3 separate regions of the Homo sapiens genome follow, and regions 2 and 3 are each reported to be linked to region 1. The links are microRNA targets in miRTarBase. Many come from high-throughput screens and were not tested one by one. Region 1 holds a microRNA gene; each other region holds the end of a gene's coding sequence.
The links. The annotated mature microRNA hsa-miR-3646 reads AAAAUGAAAUGAGCCCAGCCCA and lies in region 1 at 1,379-1,400, opposite strand. An mRNA with a match to its seed (bases 2 to 7 or 8) in the 3' UTR can be bound and repressed. Matches are read on the target gene's strand: a 7mer-m8 pairs with bases 2 to 8, a 7mer-A1 pairs with bases 2 to 7 and ends in A, and an 8mer does both.

Region 2: miRTarBase lists ABHD17B as a target of hsa-miR-3646. Seed matches in the 3' UTR shown: 7mer-m8 at 1,488-1,494.
Region 3: the mRNA of PTPN14 is a reported target of hsa-miR-3646. Seed matches in the 3' UTR shown: 7mer-m8 at 844-850, 8mer at 999-1,006 and 7mer-m8 at 1,164-1,170.

What each region holds. Positions count from the first base shown.
Region 1 is chr20:44,406,321-44,409,576 of GRCh38, reverse strand. MIR3646 (microRNA 3646) reads right to left here and starts at 1,457; the gene lies at 1,374-1,457. HNF4A (hepatocyte nuclear factor 4 alpha) reads right to left here. Exons shown (of 10, transcript NM_175914.5): 3 at 2,102-2,196.
Region 2 is chr9:71,864,102-71,867,357 of GRCh38, reverse strand. It overlaps ABHD17B (abhydrolase domain containing 17B, depalmitoylase), which reads left to right. Exons shown (of 4, transcript NM_001025780.3): 4 at 352-2,206. The coding sequence ends at 571. Among named protein-coding and RNA genes, the nearest start is that of ABHD17B, 45 kb to the left of the region's middle.
Region 3 is chr1:214,355,263-214,358,518 of GRCh38, reverse strand. It overlaps PTPN14 (protein tyrosine phosphatase non-receptor type 14), which reads left to right. Exons shown (of 19, transcript NM_005401.5): 19 at 469-3,256. The coding sequence ends at 597. Among named protein-coding and RNA genes, the nearest start is that of SMYD2, 76 kb to the right of the region's middle.

The DNA of each region.
Region 1 (3,256 bases):
ATCCACTCAGGAGGGCTGCCAACCCCTCTCCCATCTGCCTGTCACAGACCTGAACTTTCACTGTGAGAGAGCTGTTCTCTCAAACACAGTGCCCTCTGGATGACACCTATGAGGAATCATAGTGCCTAAAATCTTAGGCTTTTGGGATAATGGAATCACTGACTAATACAACCACAGAAATGTTGGAACCTTAGACTGTAGTTCTCAATCTTTTTCTTGCCTCCAACTGTTCACACATGCATCAGGTTCCCATTCATAATCTTTCCCAGTCCACAAAATGGAAGTTGAAGTGGATGAGACAGGCTTAACCCCATTGAAAACTGGGTTTGGGAGAGGAGGGAGTATTTGCAGCTTAAAAAGCCCCTCTTGCCCTTGGAGAACCACTGATATCTAGATGTTAGAATTGCAGCGTTCAGAGCAGGCCTTGGGGACCACCCACTCCTGCATCGGGATCAGCAAGCCCAGATTTTCCAAGACAGCTCATGAGCCCAGACTAAGGTCCCATAAGGATGAGACATAGAAGATATTTCCAAGGGAGGGGGCAGAGAAAACAGGGGGCCAGGAGCAGATACAGGGGAAAGAGAGTCTACCAAAGCCTCCCCTCCCCTCCTTCTCAGTGGGCCCTGGAGCAAGCTGGGTCCTACGTTCCTGCTTCTGGGGTGTGCTGGGGTGATGGGGGTGAGGGGTGTTTGTACCGAACTAGCAGGACTAGACCAAGGTTTGGCTGGTACGGCACAACTGTGGGCTAGAAGGGAAGGTCTGGGACTAGTCGCAGAGCTGGGAAAGGTTGAGTTTAGAGGAGCAGGAAATGAAGAGATTCGAAAATGAACTCGTTACTTTTTTATTTTTTTTGAGAGAGTCTCGCTGTCTTGCCCAGTCTGGAGTGCAGTGGCATGATCTCAGCTCACTGCAACCGCCTCCTCTTGGGTTCAAGCAATTCTCCTGCCTCAGCCTTCCGAGTAGCTAGGACTACAGGCATGCACCACCACGCCCAGCTAATTTTTTTGTATTTTTAGTAGAGACGGGGTTTTACCATGTTGGTCAGGATGGTCTCGAACTCTTGACCTCAAATGATTTGCCTGCCTCGGCCTCCCAAAGTGCTGGGATTACAGGCCTGATTCACTGCGCCTGGCCTCAAGTTACTTTAAAGCAGTTAAAAGATTTTTGCTTCCCTTGCTTGGGCTGAAAACAATTTTAAATGTCCCTGGTATCTGGAGAGCATAAAATAATAGACAGTGCTGAAGTGTGGTCCAAATAGCAGAAGCTCTGGGACTTCAGATCTTCCAAGGATCAGTTGTGGGGCCCTAGGCAAGTTGCTTAACCATTGTGGGCCTCAGTTCCTTCATCCACAAAAAGGGAGGAATTGTAATAGGTTCAATGGGCTGGGCTCATTTCATTTTCACAACATTTTCCCATATAGGGTTGTCATGAAAATGAAATGAACCCAACCTACTGAAGTGTGGAAAAAGCACAGCCCAGTGACTGATACCTGCTGGTAGCAGGAAGCCTGGCAAGACCTTAATAAATGTTGTGCTCTGGTCTTCTCCTCCTTTGTCCAGGATGGGTCTGGGGTCTTGTTCCCATTTTCTAGAATGTGAAGACTTTGGAGATCACGTGATACCCACGAATGAATACTAAGGGAACTGGGGCATTTGTCCCTGGGACCGGAAGCTCAGGCATCGGGCTCCTCTGGCTGTCCCTTTTGTAAAGTTGGGATAGTGAGTACTCAGATGTTTGCAATATCATTCTCTATGCTTGTCCTAACGTTCGAAATATTATATTAAACACACACACACACACACACACACACACACACACAACGTGGCTGCTTTGTGGTGGCGCAGACAGGCAGGCAGGGGTGGTGGTTGCTGGGAGCCTGAGGAGCCAAGAGTGGGAGCTTATCTCTCTGAATCTTTCTCAAGACCAAGCCCAGCCGCTCCCTATGGTCAGATTTCCAGGCCCTCCCTCTTCTCAGCCATTAGCCAGTCACCCTGGGGCCTGCCACTGAGTCATAAAGTGTGGCTACAGTTGTAAATGACTGTCGGGGAGCTGTGGGTGCAGGTGGGGCAGTGGTGGTGGGGCGGGGAGGGCCGAGGCTCACCTTCCTTCTTCATGCCAGCCCGGAAGCATTTCTTGAGCCTGCAGTAGCGGCACTGGTTCCTCTTGTCTTTGTCCACCACGCACTGCCGGCTAAATCTGGGGAGGGCTTTGGATGGTTGGATGGAGAAGACACAACTTCCTCCTCTTAGGACAGAACTAGGGCCCTGGCTATCCAGTTGACCCCCCAACCTCAGTGCTCTCATCTCTTCATCCCGGGAGTTCTCTCTTGAACCCACCAGGAGCTGGAAAGGTGCTATGAACTCTCTAAGAGCCCAGTCCTGTCCTGCTAAACATGGGAAAACTGAGGCTCAGAGAGGCAACATGTGGTCCTGGGTCGCTCTGCTGGTTGGTGTTAGAGCTGAGTTGGGAACCTTGACCTCTGGAGTACCAGAGCCCTGCTATTTCCACCACATCCTATAAAAGCTCAGAACCCATAGCAGGCTCCTGGTTATGGCTCAGAGTTAATACTCGGTTCACATAAGCCTCTCTCTGGAGGGGGATAGGAAGTAGAGGCAGTGCCACACCGTGGTGATGGGTGGGGCCCTGAATGTTAACCCTGGCTCTGCCAGTGATTCAAGCTGGTTGACCTTGGGCAAATGCCTAGCCCTCCAAGCCACAGCTTCCTCCTCTATAAAATGGGAATAACAACAGTAACCATCTCACAGGGGTGTTGACAGGTGAAATGAAGTCATGCGCCGATGGGGCACAGTCTTTGTACATGACAAGTGCTCGCAATTGACAGCTGCTATGATTTTATTATTGTCATTACCCAGAACAGGAGATGCTTTCGAAAGAGGGCTCTCCAAGGCCTTGGGAAGACTTTGGGGTTGGTGGAAGCCCCTGGGGTAGGTGGAACGGCCTGGGGTCAATCTCCTATTTGTCCCAAAAACAGCACCAGACTGGAAGACGGGCTCATCTACTGAGGCTTCAGGAGAGGCCCCATGGAATGGGAAAAACAACAATGGGCTCAAGGGGATGGGTAAATACACACAAAGACTTAGTATTGTGCCTGGCATATGATAAGAGCTCAATAAACGGCAGCCAGTAGCTTGATGATCAGTAAATGTGGTTCCTAGAATAGATGCTCTTCTTGGATTCACAAAGTCTTTTACAAAACCAGAAGAGCCTTGAAGGCCCTGAAGGGCAGCTGTCTCTG
Region 2 (3,256 bases), not on the chromosome of region 1:
ATTAGCGCATACTTGAAATGGTTCTTAAATTTTCTCTTCTTCTGGACACCTAAGTTTCTCTGTGCCAAAAGTCAACATTGTAGAAAGGTACAGTAGAGTGACAAGAGCATTGAGTGATTCCAGCAAAACCATCAAAACAAGTGCATGAAAATAACTTCCTCAGATAATCTTAAGGTAGGGAGTATGTAAAAGGCAATTTTTGAATCTTACTGGAAATTCAGGAGACATTCTTACCTTCTGAACTGATTCATACAATTCTCATATTTGAATTATCTGTCTGATATAGCACAAGAATATGTTCCTTTACATAGTTAATTTATTGCATTTTTCCCCCTTCCTTTTTCCCTGCAGCATTGACAAAATCTCTAAGATAACCTCTCCAGTATTAATAATTCATGGGACTGAAGATGAAGTCATTGACTTTTCACATGGCCTCGCATTGTTTGAACGTTGCCAAAGACCTGTGGAGCCTCTCTGGGTTGAAGGAGCAGGTCACAATGATGTGGAACTTTATGGACAGTATCTTGAAAGGTTGAAACAGTTTGTGTCACAGGAACTGGTAAATTTGTAAAATATTCTGTAAATTTGCTACTGGGTTTTCCTTTCTTGCTGAACTGCACTCTTTGGTAAATAACATAAAACCTGAAGGTTTTGTTTGCAAATCATGTCAGTTGCCTTCATAAATGTACAGGTAATGATTTGTTAACAGACTTAATGAAGGTTTTAATTACCAGAACTAAAAACTGGAAATAACAGTACCGTGCAGTCAGGCTGTGTAATTTATATTTTTTCTGTGAATTTTTTTTTAACATCAAGATGAGTACTGTATGAGATTTTAATTCTATAAAATCAAATGCTGTAAAAGTATTGCCAAATGCTTTTGCATACTAGAAACAAATTTATAAATATTTTTAAAACATCTCAATATATTAAATCTTATCCTGGAATACAACTGTAATATTTTGAAAAAAGCTATGTATCTAAAGCAATTTAAGTACTCATAATGGAATGAACTGTAAAAGAGATTTAAAACCATGCAAGTTCACTAGAATTAACCTAAACCCTGTTGTACAGGGATAGAGGTTTAAAGTTATTTTATTGTAAAATACATTGAATTTTCTGTATACTCTGATTACATACATTTATCCTTTAAAAAAGATGTAAATCTTAATTTTTATGCCATCTATTAATTTACCAATGAGTTACCTTGTAAATGAGAAGTCATGATAGCACTGAATTTTAACTAGTTTTGACTTCTAAGTTTGGTACTGTGAGGCAAGTACTTAAAATTTTCATGCTGGTTACTTAAAAGGCATTTAGAGATTTCAAGAATGATTTTGTATACGATGTTTTAAATTTTGACTGATCTCATAGTCTTCATAGAATTGCAGTAGTCTTCATTGTATGAAATCCCGAAAGTCCATGAGTTGATCTTAAAGACCACTAACAGACTGGCTATCAGATCCCTTTTCACTTTGGCTATTTTTTTCATTTTTTGAGATGGAGTCTTGCTGTGTCACTGAGGCTGGAGTGCAGTGGCGCGATCTTGATTCACTGCAACCTCTGCCTCCCGGGATCAAGTGATTCTCCTGCCTCAGCCTCCTGAGTAGCTGGTATTACAGATGCTTGCCACCACGCCTGGCTAATTTTTGTATTTTTAGTAGAGACAGGGTTTTGCCATGTTGATCAGGCTGGTCTTGAACTCCTGACCTCATGATCTGCCCTTGGCCTCCCAAAGTGTCGGAATTACAGGCATGAGCCACTGCGCCTGGCCCACTTTAGCTATTTTTAAAAATAGGACCTATTGTTTTGGATTACTATCTGAGAATTTCATGGATTCACTCCTGGGTATAGGAGATAAGAATACGTTTAATTCATAACTTTTATATTAACCAATATAGTAAAAAAATAAAGCTCACACATACAAAAACTAAGTTGCCTTTCCTTGAATGAACCCTGTCTGAATAAAACAATGAAAAATAAAAATAAAATTAATGGTATGTAGTCTAATTTGTAAATGAATGAATATGGAAATAATACACACTGTGGATATATTTTAAGGCCTTATGTAGTTTTAATTGTTCTGCTCGTTCCGTGGTTATGTTTAAGACTATAGTATATGACTCTCTTCAAAGTATATCAAGTATTGTGAATGCTTTGGTTCAGATGTGTCAAATTAACAGTAAAACAACAAATATACCACTGACCTGTGCTTATTTGCCTTTTTCCATGCTCCCCACCCCCACACTAGAAAGAGTGAAAAAAAATTACCCTTCGTTTTTATAGGACATAGTTTGAAAATTTTTAAAATTATATCATCACTTTTTTGGAGAGGTCTTTCTTTCTCAAGATTGTCTTGTAACCTATACAGTTTCTTCTTTGTACAGCATACAACCCAGGGCTTAGCTAAATGTTTTCTTTGATTACCTGGGGAAATCTAAATATTGATCCTATTCATTCAGTGTTCGTTCATTCAACAGACAGTTACTGAATGTATAAATCATGCAAAAACCTGTGCTAGGTAAAGACAGACTGTGTCCTCATAGATTTCATGGTATAGCTAAGGAGACAGGCACCTCATTGCACAAATATTACTATTTTGATAAGGGCTGAAGGAGATTTGTAAGGTATTGTAACAGGTAAAAGGTACTTTTGGGAGGGGAACATAGGGAGCAGGGCAAGGAAGAGTCCCCCAGAGAAGTGGTATTTCAGCTAAGTTTTGAAGGATAACTAAGAATTGGGTAGACCTGGGTGACCCAGGGGAAGCATTCCTAGCTGAGGGGAATGAATAATATATGGAAGCCTAGAGGAAGGAAGGTGCAGTTAAATATGAAGACTGGGCCAGGGGCGGTGGCTCATGTCTGTAATCCCAGTACTTTGGGAGGCTGAGGCAGGTGGATCACGAGGTCAGGAGATCGAGACCATCCTGGCTAACACGGTGAAACCCTGTCTCTACTAAAAACACAAAAAGTTAGCTGGGCGTGGTGGCACGCGCCTGTAGTCCCAGCTACTTGGGAGGCTGAGGCAGGAGAATCACTTGAACCCGGGAGGTGGAGGTTGCAGTGAGCCGAGATCGCACCACTGCACTCCAGCCTGGGTGACAGAGCGAGACTCTGTCTCAAAAAAAAAAAAAAAAAAAAAAAAGAAAGTTTGGCCTATGCATGAGGCTGCTAATTAGGAACACAATTACAGATGGCATGGTGAACCCTAGTCTTTATCCTAGAAACAAATAGGCCATTGATAGAAAAAGGAAACA
Region 3 (3,256 bases), not on the chromosome of region 1:
GCAGGGGAGTTGAGAGTACCATTCAGGTCTAACTCCAGCCTTTATGTTTTAACCAGCAGACTAGTCTGTATTCAAAATAATACACCAGGACAGGTGTGGTGGCCCACGCCTGTAACCCCAGCACTTTGGGAGACTCAGGTAGGAGGACTGCTTGAGCCCAGGAGTTGAAGGCTGCAGTGAACTATGACTGTGCCACTGTACTCCAGCCTGGGTGACACAGCAAGACCCTCTCAGAAAATTTGAAATTAAATAAAAATAAAATATCCCACCAGTGACACATGATGACCAGGTTCTCCAGTTGCTGATATAAACTGTTTGATGCATAAAACCCAGCCAGGGCAGAGTCCCTTGCCTTCTCTTGTACCTGGACATGGGCAGTGGGTGAGTGCTTCCTGAATGAGGGAATGAGGAATGCTCAAAGGGAAGCCTCCTGTCTCAGGACCTTGTGCTTTCTCTCTTTTCTTGCAGAAGGTGGAAGTGCCCATGATGCTGAGGCTCCTCAGGGAGCAGAGGATGTTCATGATCCAGACTATCGCTCAGTACAAGTTTGTCTACCAAGTCCTCATCCAGTTCCTCCAAAACTCCAGACTCATTTAATCACCCCAATCCAGCTCCTGGAGGAGGGACCCAGCTCCATCGCGCTGGAGGAGAGTCACCTCCAGACAACATCTGCTCCCCCCACAGGGGTGCAGGTGGCTGGCAGCAAACAGGCTCTCTGAAGACAGTAGCCAAGATTATTCACACATACCATGTATTATTTTATATGAGATAATTTATTTTTTTCCCCTTTGGAATAACTTTTGTGAATTATTATAATGCAGTTTCCCTAGTAATATAGTACTTTTCATTTGAACCACATCTTGACTGATCTGTATTGTAATATATGTCAGCAGGTAAGGTTGCCTGCTGGATCATTTTGAGGACAGAGGCATGAGGGAGCACATCTCTTGTGAAGTTGCAGCCAGATTTGTAACCAACCCTGAAATTCATCAGCTTAATTCATTTATCAGCTTGATTCATTCATCATTCATTGCTTATATCCAAAGCAAAGACGGTAAGAAAATGAATTCATCCTGAAATATAAAGAAAAGGGTCTGAAGGAACAAACACGATTCTCTTATATTTTGGGGCTCATGAGCCTTGATAGACAGTTTCCTCTCGTCTTCATTTCCACCCCTCATCCTCAGTAGTCTCCTCTCCCCCACGCCCCACCCCAACTTCCCCCCCAAGCTTGAGTTAAAGACAGAATAGCTAAAGACAGTGCTGCCTTTACAATGCAGTAATTGCCATCTTTGGGGCCGAAAGACAAGCTCTGTGTTGTGCTTTTCTTGACCACCCCTTATCCTGGGCTCTGGAGCTTGTGTTTCCCTGCTGGCGACTGTACCTTGGGTATTTGTTGCTACCTCTCCTGTTTGCTCAGTAGGACCCTGTCTGGTGGCATTGAGGCTCTGGACCAGACCATCTGTGCAGTTAAGGCTCTACCCTGATTGAGAGAGGATAGCAGACCTAGAAAGAGAAAGGAGTTGGGCAGGGCCTTTGAGGATTGTGTTTTTCAGGCAGGGCCTTGATGATCATTGTTTTTTATTTAAATAAGATGTGTGTGCTGGACAGAGACCTAAAAGTTGAGGTCACTAAGTCATTGGAAAGGCCATCAAGGAAACAGATGGGGAAGCTGATTTATGGGAGCTGTAAGGCATTTAGCTACATAACAGGGGTCCTGGCCAGGAAACACATCAAATGTGACCCCCGCTGTGCTGATATCATCTTCAGGCTTTGGTCTGCAAGATCAGAATTAATCCCACTCGGGACCCCATAGTCCAAACTTGGGGCCACTTGATGAACGATGGTAGAATTGTCATTGGCAGAGCCCTGTGCTTCTTTCCTTTTCTTCATAAAATCCACTCGCTGGTCAGTTATCTTCACTTTGAAGCCCAGTTCTTAGTTTCTTCCTATGGCTTCATTGGTCAGTGTCCTTCTGAATTTCCAAGGATGGTACACAATAAATCATGTTTTGTACTTTTTTCCTCTTACTGCATTTTGGGGGATTTATCATTCTATGTCTACCTTTTCTTGAGTACAGCTTTGATATGCACCTGTTGTTACGTGGTGATGGGAAGTCACAGGCGTGCTCTTTCTAGTTAATTTGATGCCACATCTTCCTTGTCTTTTCAGCTTGGGAAAAAGGCGGCAGTGGAGGAAGGCATGGAATGCCCACAGTGGTCAGTTCAAAGAACAAACGTGCAATTAAAAAACTGTAGTCAGCCAGGCACGGTGGTTCACACCTGTAATCCCAGCACTTTGAAAGGCCAAGGCGGGCAGATTGCTTGAGCTAAGGAGTTCGAGACCAGCCTGAGCAACATGATGAAACCCCGTCTCTACAAAAAGTACAAAAATTAGCCAGGCGTGGTGGTATGCCCTGGTAGTCCCAGCTGCTCGGGAGGCTGAGGCAGGAGGATCACCTGATTCTAAGAATTCGAGACTGCAGTGAGCCGTGATCTTGCCACTGTAGTCCAGGCTGGGCTACGGAGAGACCCTGCCTCCAAAAAAAAAAAAAAAAAAGGAAAAAAGGTTGTCAAGAAAAACTAGATGTTAGGAGAAAGGAAAATTTAATTGCAGTTTTTTTTCTTAGAATTGACTGCTGTGAGAGTTCCATATGCCTTTCTTCATTGCTGCTTTTGTCCCCCGTGAGCTAAAAAGATGGAGTGACATCAAATCAACCAGAAAAAGTATGCCTTTGTGACATCCCATCACCACATGCCAACAGGTATATATTCCCCATTAAGTTCTTCGGAATAGGAATCCTCTGTTTCAACCTGGCCAGGTGTTGTGGTGGCTGTACTCTAGTTAGACTCGGAATATCTGGGGATGGAGGGCTTCCCCTGTGTCTTCTACTTCAAGGTCTGAAGGCTCAGTGAAGGAGTATAATCTGCTGATCTTTGTAGATTCTGGAGTTTTGTTGTATGTCCTGGAAAGAAACCCATTAGTATTACATGTATTTTCAGTGAACAGAGCTTATAACCCTTATTATAAGAAGCTCATCAATAAGCAAAAAGATACTTGTTTCCTTTCCTTGGAGGTTTTTCCATCCTTGGGATATTCTGCTGTTAGGGATGTTTTAGCAAGTGGTCTCAGTTACTGGTTTATTGCGTGATGAACAACATCAGTATTTATCTTTTATCTCTAAGCCCCAAGGTGGGCACTGTTAGAATATGTCTCATGTGGACAGCATATAGATCTGGTGCGTCTTTGAGGTCGT